Linked DNA regions of Homo sapiens: region 2 is linked to region 1. A link means that fine-mapping ties the variant in region 1 to the expression of a gene that starts in the linked region. Tissue or cell type: fibroblasts. Region 1 holds a variant in brackets; the other region holds the start of a gene. All regions are shown on one strand. Distances are between the middles of the regions.

Region 1 (8,108 bases):
CTGTGTTTGATGTAATTAATAAATAAATGAAAAGAGTTTAATAGCAAATAAATAAATGAGATGCAATATGATATGGTTAAAAAAATACTTTTGGAGTCAGAGCTGACTCTGTCTAGTTCATGTCCTGTTTTGTTGTTTATTCTGTGACCTTAGGCAAGCCACTTAAATTTTGATCTTTAGTTTCCTGTTCAGTGAAATAGGATTAATTGCAATTCATATTGTGAGGATTAAGTGAGCTCAAGTAAGGAAACAGCCAGCACAGTACAGTGCACATAGAATGTGCTCAGTTTACCTTTCTCATTAGAGCCCATAGTCTCCTGATGGATGTCTAGACTGAGGCTTCCTGAGAATTGTGAGCATAAAGAGATAAAGAGAGGTAACACTGGGACACAGGATTTTTCCCAGAGCTAACAAGTTTCCATTTTTGTTTGTACAGAAGTTCAGATTTCTTATGGCTAATTGTGTTGGATTGGGTTACATCTTGTTTTGTGCACTTCAGAACAACTGCTACAATTCCGGGGCAGGGGAATAAAGTAACATTTGGAATCAGTTAGTTAATGTACAGTCAGTTGGTCTGTATTCTGTATAATTGTCATAGAAGGCAGAATCTTCCTGGAGAGGAAACACAAATGCTTCTGAAGTAGAATACTTCAGGGCTGTCTCTTGCAAGAGAAAAATCAGAGAAGCGAAAGGAAGAGACCATCTGGCCACCAAACTCACACTTCACAGTTGGGCTTAGCTAGTCTATGGTCTTGGCTTTCATTGTGCTGGGTTCCCACACTTTGGGTAGGCCCTCCAGGACCAGTTCAAGCAACCCAAACGAATAAGAAGTGATATATATCATACATTAATTCTTCAATCACTTTGAGAGTAATTTACTCTTTGCCCCTTTGTAGGCATCTCCTTCTTGATGTCAAAGTCCCCAGGAGGCATCGTTAACTATCGTAACGTTACCTGCCGAGCATGAGATGGGAGGAAGTGTCATAGTCCAGTGGACGGTTTTTTCCAGGCTACTGTGAAACCTGATGTGTTATGCCGGCCCTGAAACAGACAGCTTCCCAAGTGACTCAGACCTTAAGGTTTCCCACAGTTTCCATTTCTATTCAGAATTTAATGTTGCTATTAAAAAGTAATGAGGCAGCTTTCTATGAATGCTGAGATGGTTAGGTAATACACAAACACACACACACTCACATTCCTCCCCTAAAAAAGAAGAAAGCAAAGAAAACCAGTACTTTTTGTAAATGCATGGCATATCTCAAAATTCAAAAGAAACTGGTAATAGTAGTTGCCTCTGGGAAGGTATACAGGGTGGCAGGGCTACAGGGCACAGGCGTAGGAAGGGGGACTAATTTAATTTAATTTAATTGTATATCCTTTGAAAGCTATACCTTAAGTATGTATTAACTATTCAAAAAAACTAAATTTTTTTTTTAAAGAAACATTTTCTCTTTTTATTATACTTTAAGTTTTAGGGTACATGTGCACAATGTGCAGGTTAGTTACATATGTATACATGTGCCATGTTGGTGTGCTGCACCCATTAACTCACCATTTAGCATTAGGTATATCTCCTAATGCTATCCCTCCCCCCTCCCCCACCCCACAACAGGCCCCGGGGTGTGATGTTCCCCTTCCTGTGTCCATGTGTTCTCATTGTTCAATTCCCACCTATGAGTGAGAACAGGCAGTGTTTGGTTTTTTGTCCTTGTGATAGTTTGCTGAGAACGATGGTTTCCAGCTTCATCCATGTCCCTACAAAGGACATGAACTCATCATTTTTTATGGCTGCATAGTATTCCATGGTGTATATATGCCACATTTTCTTAATCCAGTCTATCATTGTTGGACATTTGGCTTGGTTCCAAGTCTTTGCTATTGTGAATAGTGCCACAATAAACATATGCGTGCATGTGTCTTTATAGCAGCATGATTTATAATCCTTTGGGTATATACCCAGTAATGGGATGGCTGGGTCAAATGATATTTCTAGTTCTAGATCCCTGAGGAATTGCCACACTGACTTCCACAATGGTTGAACTAGTTTACAGTCCCACCAACAGTGTAAAAGTGTTCCTATTTCTCCACATCCTCTCCAGCACGTGTTGATTCCTGACTTTTTAATGATAGCCATTCTAACTGGTGTGAGATGGTATCTCACTGTGGTTTTGATTTGCATTTCTCTGATGGCCAGTGATGATGAGCATTTTTTCATGTGTCTTTTGGCTGCATAAATATGAAAACTAAATGTTTTAAATCACCAATAATTCTAGCACAACTATTTTATTTGTGTATGACACTTTCTAATTTCTTACTATAGGCAGATATGTTTTCATATGGTTACAGTCATTGTGTCTATACTTATATCCAGTTAGGATGCTTTTCACAAGCTAGCTTATAATGGCTATTTATTTCCTGCTATGATCTGAAAGTTTATGTCTCCCCCAAATTCATATACTGCAATCCTAACCCCAAGGTGATGTTATGAGGAAGTGAGGTCTTTGGGAGGTGATTAGGTCATGAATGAGATTAATAACCTTTAAAAGAGGCCTAAGGGAGCTCGTTTGTGACTTCCACCATATGAAGATACATGTAGAAGGTGCAACCTATGAGGAAATGAGCCCTCACTAGAAACCAAATCTGTAGGTGTCTTGATTTTGGACTTCCCAGCCTATACAACTGTGAGAAATAAATTTCGGTTGTTTATAACCCACCCAGTCTATGATATTTTGTTATAGCAGTTGCATGACTAAGATATTTTTCCAGATGTCCAGAAATTGGAGATATGGTATGATTAAGTGGCTTATTTATATCATTGAGGACCTAGTTTCTCTATTTCTCTTTGGACTTTTCTTGTCTTCAGCATTGGCTTTATCTTAAGGGTTTTTCCCTTAGAGTTACAGTATGCTGCTAATGGCAATCAGGGCTATAAACATCCTTGCCCAGTCCGGCGAGAGACAGACAGACACACCAATTTGTTGTAAGCATGGAATAAAGTACTTTCAACTGAACTGATAAGGTCAACTCAGGTCACATATCCAGACAGACAATGTGCACTAATTGGCTTAGTTCAATCAGATACTACTTGGAATTGGGCTTGGGGACATGTTCCCTTGAACAAAATCAGAGTTCAATTAGTAATAAAGAAGTGGAGAATGGCTAACTGGACAGGCAACCAACAGTGTCTACCATAATACCTTTTAAAAAATAATGTTTTTTTCTGATACAAAAAAATACTTGTTCATTGTCTTAAAAACTCGGAAAATAAAGCATAGTTGGGAGAAGGTACTAAAGAGCACCCTATTACCATTATCCAGAAAACCACCTCAATGTATTTTTCTCCTCTATATAGTTTTTACATAGTTGAGATCATACACCTTATTAACCATTCCATATTTTAATGGCTACAAAATATTTACTTGGGCCGGGGGCGGTGGCTCACGCCTGTAATCCCAGCACTATGAGAGGCCGAGGCAGGCAGATCACGAGGTCAGGAGCTTGAGACCAGCCTGGCCAACATGGTGAAACCCTGTCTCTACTAAAAATACAAAAATTAGCTGGGTGTGCTGGTGTGCGTCTGCAATCCCAGCTAGTCAGGAGGCTAAGGCAGGAGAATCGCTTGAACCCAGGAGACAGAGGTTGCAGTGAGTCGAGATCACGCCACTGTACTCCAGTCTGGGCAACAGAGCGAGACTCCACCTCAAAAAAAAAAAAAAAAGATGGATGCAGCAAACCATCATGACGCGTGTATACCTATGTAACAAACCTGCACGTTCTGCACATGTACCCCAGAACTTAAAGTATAATAAAAAAAAATTTACTTGATTGGATGCATCATAATTTACTCAATATTTTTTTCACCATTGAATAAGTAGCTACTGAGTTTTTACTATAATAGTCCACATAACAATGAATATTATGACCCATAAAGCATTTCATTTCTGTTGAATATTTCTCTTAGTATACTTTTCAGTGTAAAGCTATGAATCAAACATTTTACCATATATGTGCCTTTATAACAGTACGGTTTTGCTTTCCAAAAGGGTTACATCAGCTTAAACTACTATCACAGTGTGAGTGAACCAATTTTATTATAACCACTCCAGCATTCAGTGTCGTCATTTAAAAATGTATGACTGTTTACTAGGTATAAAATGATAAAATGCTTTTGACATGATCTTTATGTTGGTGGCATTATCCTTATCCTGTGTTTGCCTTGGGGGTTTTATTTACTATAGGGATCTGCAAAGACTTGGAGAACTTCAATCTGAATTGGCAGGAGTAGCTGATTTCTCTGCCACCTATCTTCGCTGTCAACTACTTCTCATCAAGGTTGGTTTGCATCCATTCCATTTATGATTGTGTTGCTAAAAATGCATCTTTGTGGATCCAGCAGTGTGTGAGGCCATAAGTTATAAAACTTATGGTCTTAATGCAACCACTTGACAATGGAGAAATATGTACTCTGCAGTGTGATTACATTTGTCTCTAATTAACGAAATATTAACTCATAGGAATTTGTAAATTTGGGGAGAATTCTTTTATCATAATATAATTAGAGCAGATTGGATAATCATTTTAGTTAGAATCCCAAGGTTGTAAATGTTTTGTATAATTTGATTAGCAAAGGAATTGTATGAAGTTTTAGACTAT[C/T]TTCTTAAAATGCTCATTTGAAGGCCAGGTGCGGTGGCTCACACCTGTAATCTTAGCACTTTGGCAGGCCAAGGCAGGAGGATCGCTTGAGCTCAAGAGTTTGAGACCAGCCTGGGCAACATAGCGACACCTCATCTCTACAAGAAAATTTAAAGTAGGCAGGTGTGGTGGTGCATTCCTGTATATCCAGCTACTCGGCTGGAGTTGGGAGGACTGCTTGAGCCTAGGAGGTCAAGGCTGCAGTGAGATTGCACTCCAGCCTGGATGACAGACCAAGATCCTGTCTTTAAAGAAAACAAACAAACAAACAAACAAAAAAACTCACTGCACTTCATCAAAGTTAAAAGGTTGATTTCATTGCTTTTAAAAAGACCAGCTTGCTGGCGTTTCTTACTCAGTAGTCAGCTATACACAGAATTGGTACCCAAGAATCTATTTAGTTTTGCTGAGTTAAAAAACAATTAAATGAGTTCAGTATCTTTCAGCTTCTGTAGCAGAATTTTACTATAAATTTTGGCACAGAATTTAGGAGAGCCCTTCTCACTTGACGAACTTTTATCTTGGCCCTAGTTCAAAGTGTTCTTTGTTTTCAAAGTGATTAATGATGTTTGGCTAAAGTCAGAGTAAATCAGGGAGTCAAAAGTTATTTTCTACTGTGTGAACTTGTGCTAAATGTTATATTTACAGTTGTGCAGGTGTGCCTATACATGTAAAGGTGCGTATGTATACTTGGCACTTAAATGGTCCTTGTTAGGCTAGATATGTTCTTTCTAATGTATATATCTGTGTAATCACCACCATAGGCAAGTCGTAGAACATTTTCATCACTCCAAGAAGTTCCTTCCTGCCCCTTTGCAAGGTTGTTTGGCTTTTCCAAGCCTCTGTGAAACCCCAGGAATTCAAGGAGGCCATGGAGAAGAATCCACTTTTCTATAGTAGCAAAATATGGGTGAGGAAAGAGAAGTGATTACTCCTAAAAAGAACACATAATTGTTGGTTATTCAATGACAAGGGGTGACAGTGTAGGTGAGGGGCCCAGAGCCAGAACCCAAGGCAAGTGTGTTTAATAACAGGAAAAAAGCTAAATAAATTTTGGTACAGCTACCTAGCAGTATATTCTGTAGTCAGTAATTCTTTATGAAGAATTATACAACAACATGACAAAATATTTAGGGTGTAATGTTATGTACCCAAAAGAAGGGGAGCCAATCATAATCCCAAAAGATAGTCCAGAACATCATAGTCCTAAACTGTTTAAATTCCAAAAGACTAAAATCCCTAAGGTCTAAAATCCCAAAAACCACAGCCCAGAAAATATCAAAATCCCCAAAATATAATTATGGAAGAAATAATTTAAAAAATTTAAAGATATTTATTTTTTAAAGGGGAATTTATTTGAGAAACATAAAAACACAACAGAATACTTTATACATCACTTAATATAATAAAACAGACAATAACAACATACATTTTTGCAAGCATAAACACTCAGGTTACTAATGACAGTTGGGTGGGTCTAACAGTTATGAGCAGATGAGCCATATTTATAAAGAAATTGGTCATAAAGGGAAAGGTATAAATGCATATCACTTTGGTTGTTAATTGTGTATACCCAGCTTTTTAACTGTGGTCATCTGAAATACTGTGCCCAACAACCTCAAGTCTTTTGACGAGATTGATGGAAACTGTGCTGGGTCACCACTGCATATGCAGTCACCCAAAGAGCTGAGATCTCAAGAAATTTTATCTTTCACAAATGCAGATGTACGAAAAGGATATCTCATTTATCGAGGAAGTTTCAACATTTTGTGTACACACTCAATGCTTATACACAAAGTCAGTATTGTGATGATGCACTTTCATGGAGTCAGATTTCTGATATCCAAGCAGCAGAACCCAGAGAGTCCGTTTTGCTATATTGCCTTTTTTTTTTTTTTGAGACAGAGTCTCAGCTTATCATCCAGGCTGAATACAGTGGCGTGATCTCGGCTCACTGCTGCAACCTCTGCCTCTTGGGTTCAAGCAATTCTCCTGTCTCAGTCTCCCAAGTAGCTGGGATTACAGGTGTGCACCACCACGCCTGGCTAATTTTTGTATTTTTAGTAGAGACAGGGTTTTGCCATGTTGGTCAGGCTGGTCTCCATCTCCTGACCTCAGGTCATCCACCCACCTCGGCCTTCCAAAGTGCTAGGATTACAGGCATGAGCCACCACTCCCAGCCCATTTCGTCTTAAGTATTTGTTCTCTCCTGGCCACTGGCTGATTGGATGGTGCCCGCCAACATTGAGGGCAGATAGTCTCCACTTAGTACACTCAGATTTATACACTAATCTCTTCTGGAAACACTCTCATAGACACACCCTCAATGTGTAAAACAAAATAATCTTTTACCAGGTTTCTGATATTCCTTAATCTAGTCAAGCTGATATCTAAAATTAGGTCCACAAGTCCACCCCTTGTCAGCTTGGCACTCATACGCATCTCCTTAAGCCATATTTAATTTCCAAATAAAGACAATAACATGGTAATAGTTGTGCCTAACATGATACAACTAACATGATGCAACTATCCTGCATACAACCCAAAACACGCTAATCACTTCCCCAGAATTTGGATGTGAGGATTTCAACATTTGGGATTGTATGTTTTGGGATTATGATCTAATCCCCAAACTTAATTCTGCTTTCTGACTACAACTGTCAAAAAACATGCATACAAGAAATGATTAGAAGTAAATATTCCAGAAATTCCTATAGTTTTTATCTACAGTTTAGACCTACCACTGTTTAATTTGATAGCCACCAGATACATGGGACTCTTGAGCACTCAAAAAGTTGTTAGTCCAAACTGAGATGTGTTATTAAGTGCAAAATACACACTGGATTTCTCAGACTTAGTATGAAGAGAAAATGTAAACTAATTAATAATTTAAAAAATACTGCATGGTGAAATGTTAATATCTTGGATATACTGGGTTAAATAAACTTTTTTAAAAAATTAACTTAGTCTTTGTATCTTAAAATTAACTTACATCTTTGTAATTTAAAAACCGTGGCTACGAGAATATTTAAAATTATATATAGCTCATGTTATATTTCTATTGGACAGTGTTAGTCTAGGTTTTCTGTAATGTCATTTGATTACATCTGTAATTCAGAAGGACTGAGAAAATAAGAGGCTGTCACAGAAGTTTGTGCAAGGGATGAGGTCATGTGGATGGATAGGTGAGGAGAGAGATGGAAGGTAAAATCATGGCTCTTAGTGGTGGTTTTGAATGTAGAAAGATTGAAAGAGGGAGAAATCTAGGAAAGCTGCTTGATTTCTAGTTGAATATGTTGATAAAGTGGTTGGGGCTTACAACATAATGAGCATAGGGGAAAAGAAAAAAGAACCACAGTTAAGGAAGAAGTATCTAGGTGGCTTGGGTTAGTCCAGTAGCTCTGGGAACAAGGAGT
Region 2 (8,108 bases), 87 kb before region 1:
GGGAAATTGTATGTGGGTGGACCTTGAGGCTTAGACTCAAAATTAGCACGCTGTCACTTCTACCACATTGTATTGGCCTGTCACAAGGCCAGCACAAATTCAAAGGGTGATAATATAGATTTCATCTCTTAATAAAAGCACCTTCAAAGTCACACTTCAAGGGGTATACATACCGAGAGGGGGAGATTTGGGGCTTTTTTTGCAATCATTCAACTACACACTGGATCCTTTCCATCATGGAAGGAGCAGTGATTTGTCCTCACAGGAATAGATTCATATTCCAAATTCAGATTTGACTTCCCTGCCTGCAATATTTCTGCCAGCTCCATCATCTATGGATGCCTCATTCATTATCATAGTACTCCACACATTGCTTCTGATTAAGGAGCTTATTTTATGCTGAGAAAATTGTAGTGAAGAAACTTCTTGGTCTTGCCAGGAACCCCATCATTCAGATGTAGGTGCTATAATAAAGCAGAATAATAACCTTTTGGAGATTCAGTTATAGCGCTAGTCAAGAGCCAACACATTGTGAGTTTGGGCCGCTGTTTGTGGCATATGCCTTATACCAACAGCTAAAATATAGTACTGCTTCTCCCACAGTTAGAACATGGGTCTGGTTATCAAAGGGTGGAGATAGGAGCAGTTCCTCTCTCTTTTACACCTAATAATTCATTTATGAATTCTTGGGCTCAGTAGGTTTGGAAGACTTACTCCCCAAGGGAGGAACAGTTGCCCTAGAGAACATAGTCATTGTTCATTACATTGGACATGTAATGAGACTGTCCCCAGACCACTGGGGCTCTTGTTCTGAACCAGCAGGTAGAGAAGAAGTTACTAAGTTGGGCTGCTGTTATGCAAGAGAGAGAGAAGACTGAAGCCTCACGGATTCATTCACAGGTGAACCTTAATGTATTTTCATAAGTAATAATAAAAGTCAAAGGAAAATGGCATCAATACAATAAAGACGGTTTTTCAATTCAACATTAAAGAATGTGTGTTCTTGTTTCTATACCAATCTGGCTCATTGAGAAGTTGGCTATACCAACTTCTCAAATTTATTTATTTATAATTTAAAAAAAATTTATATAGCCAGGCGTGGTGGCTCATGCCTGTAATCCCAGCACTTTGGGAGGCCGAGGTGGGCAGATCACTTGAGGTCAGGAGTTTGAGACCAGCCTCGGCAACATGGTGAGACCCTGTCTCTACTAAAAATGCAAAAAGATTAGCTGGGTGTGGTGGCGCATGCCTGTAATCTCAGCTACTCATGAGGCTGAGGCAGGAGAATCGCTTGAACCTCAGAGATCGAGGCTACAGGGAGCCACGATTGTGCCACTGCACTGCAGCCTGGGTGACAGAGATAAACTCCATATAAATTTTTTTTTTTTAAAATATAGAGACAGGGTCTCTTTCTGTTGCACTGACTGGTCTGGAACTCCTGAGCTCAAGGGATCCTCCCACCTACCACCTCCCAAAGTACTGGGATTACAGGCATGAGGCACCATGCCTGGCCTCAACTTTATTTTTATTGCTTCTTCTGTTCCCTGCATGCACTTAACTTTCAACATGAACTGAAGTTCCTTTGGTTTTCGGAATGCACCAAACTCCTTCCTAAAGCCATTTATTTATTTATTTATTTATTTATTTATTATTTTGAGACAGGGTCTCATTCTGTCACCCAGGCTGGAGTGCAGTGGTGCGATCTCAGCTACTGCAATCTCTGCCAAGCGGGCTCAAGCAATCTTCCTACCTCAGCCTCCCGAGTAGCTGGCACTACAGGCATATGCCACCACGCCCAGCTAATTTTTTGTATTTTTGGTAGAGATAGGTTTTCACCATGTTGCCCAGGCTGGTCTCCAACTCCTGAGCTCAAGCTATCCTCTCACCTTGGTCTTCCAAAGTGCTGGGATTACAGGTGTGAGCCACCGCACCTGGCCGCCATGTATTTAATAACGATGATAATACTCTGTATCATTGATGCTATGATGCACATTTAATGTCTCCGAAATCAGGAGATGTTGGCCAATCGCTCATATGTATACTGAGTCGTAGCAGTTCATGGTGTCATCGCTTCGACTGAGCTCTGTGCAATTTTGGAATTACATGTGTTATTTTAAATTACTATTAAATATATCTCCAAATAGATTACCCTATAATTTGGCATTAAAAAGTTCTTATGTGCACAGGAAGACATGGAAACAGCAGTGCGAGGTAAGATACAAATCTATGTCTAAATAAGTTAAAAAGAGCTGTTTCTGTAAGTATACATAACAAATCTAAGCAATTAGAAACCATTGTATTTAATTTCAGCATTTCTTTTCTTAACATAATAAATAAAATATTGATTTTACAATTGCTGGCAGCTTAGATTTGATAGAATATGATAATGGTAATAATAGCAGCTAAGCTTTATTAAAGGTACTGTTTGCTAAATGTTTTTCATTTCCCTTGACATATTTGTATATCTTATCTCGGCGGTCTGGGATGCCTTTGTTTCTGGAAAAACTCATTCTTTTAAAGCTGCATTAGAAATAGTTTCCTTTTTTTTTCTTTTTTTTTTCTTGAGACAGAGTCTCGCTCTGTTGCTCAGGCTGGAGTACAGAGGCCCGATCTCGGCGCACTGCAGCCGCTGCCACCTGGGTTCAAACGATTCTCCTGCTTCAGCCTCCCGTGTAGCTAGGATTACAGTCACCCACCCCGACGCCCGGCTAGTTTTTGTATTTTTAGGAGAGACGGGGTTTCACCATGTTGGCCAGGCTGGTCTCGAACTCCCGACCTCAGGTGATCCGCCTGCCTCGGCCTCCCAAAGTGTTGGGATTATAGGGGTGAGCCACCGCGCCCAGCCTTTTTTTTTTTTTTTTTTTTTTTTGGAGACAGGGTCTCACTCCGTTGCCCAGGCTGGAGTGCAGTGGCTGGATCTCGGCTCACTGCAACCTCCACATCCCAGGCCCAAGCGATTTTCCCGCCTCAGCCTCCAGAGTAGCTGGGACTTCAGGCGTGGGCCACCATCATGCCCAGCTAAATTTTGTATTTTTAAAGTAGATTTCGCCATGTTGCCCAGGCTGGTCTCAAAACTTCTGAACTAGGTGATCTGCCCGCCTCGGCCTCTCAAAGTGCTGGGATTATAGGCGTGAGCCACCACTCCCAGTTTCCTCTAATTTTAGGAAAGCCTTCCCTGAGGCACTCTGAAGAAATTAGGTCTGTTTGAACCACATTCATTCCCGTTACCCAGCACATTTCAGTTGCACTGTCACCATCAGTTTGGGTGTCTGTCTTCTCAGATTGTAGGACCTTGAGGATAAATACTATCTTTTGTTTATTTTTGGGTCCTCTGTATCCACCTCAGCCTCCTGCTTTTTTTTTTTTAAACTATCCCACATTAATTCTTTTTTTTTTTTTTTGATAACGGAGTCTCGCTCAGTCGCCCAGGCTGGAGTGCAGTGGCGCGATCTCGGCTCACTGCAACCTCCGCTTCCCATGTTCAAGTGATTCTTCTGCCTCAACCTCCCAAGAAACTGGGATTACAGGCGTGTGCCACCATGCCCCGACTAATTTTTGTATTTTTAGTAGAGACGGGGTTTCCCCATGTTGGCCAGGCTGGTCTCGAACTCCTGACCTCAAGTGATCCATCCGCCTCGGCCTGCCAAAGTATTGGGATTACAGGCATGAGCCACCGCGCCTGGCCCACATTCTTTTGAAAGACCAAAATAATGAACAGCTAGTTTCATGTAGGTTGTAAAACTTGACCTTGGATTTACTGACACTAACATGTGCACTACACCTTACAGTCCGTAAAATGTTCCTGCATTATTTCACTCCATTGTCACATCTTTGTCAGGTTAGTTATTATAAATGCATTTGTAGTTGAGCCATTTGCTCAAGAACCAGAGCTGTAGTCTGTAGCTTTGTTGCTTTATCCTTGGTCTCAGAAGTCTTCTACTGTACTATAGCTATCAGAGCAGGGATTGATGCCTTAAAGGATGGCAGCTTTTGCAAAACTGGAATAAGGAAGTATGGAAAGGCACCCCAAAACAAGAGAGGTGGCGCACAGCTTGAACAAAGGCAGTGCTCAGGAAACCTACAAACAGCATCGTGTACAGCAAAGGATGATGGGAAAGTCAGCCGAGCCTCTGAGTTTTTTCACGAGTCGTAAACCCCTTACAGAGCTCCGGGTTTTGCCTCTAGCTCTGGAGCACCCCGCCTCTGCCCTTTAACCTGTACTTCCTCCCTCCCTCCCTTCGCGCCGCGCCGCGCTAGTCTCTTAGCCACTCCGAGGCCACCAACCAGCCTCCCAAAGCTCCCATTGGGTTGCCCACCCTTTCAGTCTCAGCTCCTCCCGCCAGAGGCCCCGCCTCCCACAAGCGAAGCTCTTATTTCCGTTCTTCCGGCGTAGGCCGCCAAATCAGTCCGTACAGTGGCGAGGCAGTCGAGCAACAGGAAGCGGTCGCTCTTTCCCCAAATCCCACTGCCTTGTGGGATCTCGGCAAGTCATCCACCCACCCCCCGCGCCTACGCAAGTTTTCCGGATCCGTCCACCCCCGCCTCCCTCCTAGTGTACGGAAGCTGAGAGGGCCCGCGGGTAGGCATGGCGGCGCACCTTAAGAAGCGGGTTTATGAGGAATTCACGAAAGTGGTTCAGGTAAGCTCTGGCGGGAAAGATCCAGAACCGATCCGGACCAGGGTAGATTATCCAAATCCCAGGCACTTTGCCGGAACAGAAGAGGCTCCATACGCCCGTGTTAAGTGCTGACTTGTTGATAATCTCTGATATTGCAAGTTAGTGGGCGTGTTAGTTTGCAGCCGCTGTTGTCATTAATATGTGAAGTCTGACAGGATTTTAAAAAAATTATTAGGAGAAACAGTGTTTTTTAATTTACGAAACTGTCTTATCCGTTATTTCATTTTATTCTCTCACACAACTTTGCTCCATCGCGTTACATTAGCATCCTCGTTTTCCAGATGTGGACATTGAGCCTTCCGGAGGGGTACGAGGATACAGCCAGTTAGCAGCAGAGCCCCTTCTAGCCTCCCCGCACCCCCGTTCCAAAAAAAAACCTCCCAGGGACCAGTTGGAATATACACAAGGTTCTAAGGGGCTGAAAGAAGGGTCTATAGAATTCCTTCAGGCGCAGTCTAAGCAGGCGGGGGTCACAGACTTCATAGGGGAAGAGCTCTCTATTGGTAGAACAGCTCACCTAGGAAGGAGGGCAGTACCTTCCTCACCATGAAGTTGTGACAGGTGGGCAGAGTCCCTGTCGGGAGTCAGTGATGCTCCATGTGTCTCCACGTAGATGTTGCTAGGGTTGATCCTAAATCATCCTGATGTCCTATTTCTCAGATATTAATGTGTATACAAATTACCTGGGGACGTTGTTCAAATGTCGATTCTATTTGATAAGTCAAGCAGAGGAGGTGAGGCAAGATTCTGCATTCCTGACATGCCCCCAAATTTACACCAGTGCATTGGTTGCATTCTTAGATCCTTAGACTTGTAGAGTGGCAAGGCTTAGAGCATCCAGCAGGATACTGATCCTTAAACATTACATGGATTCATTCATCCAGCATTAAAATATGTTAATACAAATACAAAATATGTCAATACATAATATAAAATTTACAATTTTAACAATTTTAAGTATAAAGTTCAGTGGCATTAAGAACATTAGCACTGTTGCACAATGTGATTTCCTCTCTTCCCAACATTCTGTTGTTCCCATTTCCCAAGACTGCTCAGCCCTCTTCCACCCATCCTCACATGACCAGATATGCCATGTGTTCTTGTGTTTGCATATCTCAAAACTCTTGCACTGGTTGTCTCTTCTCACAGAATACATGCCATTCTTCCCTTTCTTTTTGTTCTCCACCCAGTGGACTTAACATTTGTGCTTCAAGACCCAAATGAAACCTCAGCGAGAGCTTAGTCTCTTCTTCACCTGTTTCTGTAGCATTCTGTGGTACTAATCTATTTGTACTTTTTGTTCAGTGCTGCTGTCATTACCGGTGTACCTATCTTCCCACCAGTCGGAGGTCCTTGATGGCAGAGCTAATGCCTGGCTCATCTCCGTGTCCTGGAGATGGACAATAGGGCCTGGCTCACTAAAGTGTTATTGGTGGTTGAATGACAGTTGATATTGCTTGTCCTCTCCCTTATATAATACTTAGGGAAAAAATTCCTAGCTTTTGACCTAACTACAGCTTCGATAAGACTGAAAACTGAGTTTGAGAGGACTAGGATAGAAATGGCTAAGAATTTTAAGGGAAGAGCTAATTTCTTCACTTAATTTTTCATCAGTTGTTAACATAAAGTGATTAAATGAGATCTTAGTGCTTCTGTTCTTTTTTCTCCGCTGAAAAGATGAGGAGGGAGAACTGATATGTGCCTAGCACTTACATATACGTATAATAAAGTTATGTTTAATAACAGATTTATCGACTAGCTCTGTGATAATAAAGTATTGGTATGCCCTCCTATAGAAGAAGGCCTTCCCCAGCTAGTAAGTTGTAATTGAATACAAATTCCTCTGACTCCAAAGTCCTTATTCTTTTTATCATGTCATACTGTGTTCTTGTCTAGAATAATTCTACTCTCTTTTCTATAGAAATGTGAATTTGTAAGGAGGTGATTGCTCAGTACATAAAAACGCACCATTAGGTGGTAAGGAAATTTATTTTATTTTATTATTATTTTTTAACAGAGACAGGATTTCACCATGTTGCCCAGGCTGGTCTCGAACTCCTGGGCTCAAGGGATCCTCCTGCCTCAGCCTCCCAAAGTGCTAGGATTTCAGGTGTAAGCCACTACGCCCATCGGATATTTGTTTCCTTTTCTTCTGTTTTGAGATGGAGTTTCGCTCTTTTCGCCCAAACTGGTGTGCAGTTGCGCAATCCTAGCTCACTGCAACTTCTGCCTCCTGGGTTCACGCAATCCTCAGCCTCCTGCATAGCTGGGACTGCAGGCATACACCACCACCCCCAGCTAATTTTTGTGTTTTTAGTAGAGATGGGGTTTTGCCATGTTGGCCAGGCTGGTCTTGAACTCCTGGCCTCAAGTGATCCGCCTGCCTAAGCCTCTCAAAGTGCTGGGATTACAGGCATGAGCCACCATGCCATGTCTGATATTTGTTTTCTAATAAAGAATGGACTTTGGGAGACTGAAGCAGAGGGATCACTTGAGGCCAGAAGTTCGAAACCAGCCTGGGTAACATGGCAAAACCTGTCTCTACTAGAAATACAAAAATTAGCCATGTGTGGTGGCACACACCTGTAATTCCAGCTAGTTGGGAGTCAGGGAGGTGAATCGCTTGAACGTAGTAGGTGGAGGTGGCACACACCTATAATCCCAGCATGTTGGGTGTCAGTCAGAGAATCATTTGAACCTAGGAGGTGGAGATTGCAGCAAGCCAAGATTGCACCATTGCACTCCTGCCTGGGCGACAGTGTCTTGCTCTGTCTCAAAAAAATGGAGTAGATCCTTTGTGTGACCTCTAAACCCAAAGGCTACCACAATCCTCAGAGATAGGTAGAGCAAAATGTTAGTGTAAGGCTGGGCACCGTGGCTCATGCTTGTAATCCCAGCACTTTGGGAGGCTGAGGTGCCAGGATTGCTTGAGCCCAGGAGTTAAGACCAGCCTGGGCAACATAGAGAGACTCCATCTCTAAGAAAAAAAAAAAGTATACCTATTTTACAGAGACATAAACTGAGACTCGGAGAAATTAAATGACTTGCCTAAAGTCATAGGAACTGGTAAAGGCAAAATTGAGACTCATGGCCTTGTCACCAACCCGGTACTCTTTCTGGTTTATAATACTGTATTTTCCTAAGTCCATCAGCTAAATATATTATTTGGTATAATGGAAAATCATTTCCACCAAATGAGGCAAAGTTAAATTTGCAGATTCTGTGTTTTCGATTTTCTCTACCCCTTGCAGCCACAGGAGGAAATTGCTACTAAGAAACTCCGACTAACAAAACCAAGTAAATCTGCAGCACTCCACATAGATCTGTGTAAAGCTACCTCCCCAGCAGATGCTTTGCAATACTTGCTCCAGTTTGCCAGGAAGCCTGTCGAGGCGGAAAGCGTAGAGGGAGTAGTCAGGATTCTCTTGGA

The links. PIP is the estimated chance that this variant, and not a neighbour inherited with it, causes the effect.
Region 2: INTS4 starts here. The variant in region 1 is fine-mapped to the expression of INTS4 in fibroblasts (GTEx, PIP 0.92).

What each region holds. Positions count from the first base shown.
Region 1 is chr11:77,903,941-77,912,048 of GRCh38, reverse strand. It overlaps INTS4 (integrator complex subunit 4), which reads left to right. Exons shown (of 23, transcript NM_033547.4): 16 at 4,239-4,332. It also overlaps a transcript of AAMDC not described here. Among named protein-coding and RNA genes, the nearest start is that of INTS4, 87 kb to the left of the region's middle. The variant C/T (reference allele first, on the strand shown) is at 4,654.
Region 2 is chr11:77,991,121-77,999,228 of GRCh38, reverse strand. It overlaps INTS4 (integrator complex subunit 4), which reads left to right and starts at 4,561. Exons shown (of 23, transcript NM_033547.4): 1 at 4,561-4,639; 2 at 7,930-8,108. The coding sequence starts at 4,586. RefSeq lists silencers at 1,219-1,419, 4,177-4,246 and an enhancer at 4,447-4,646.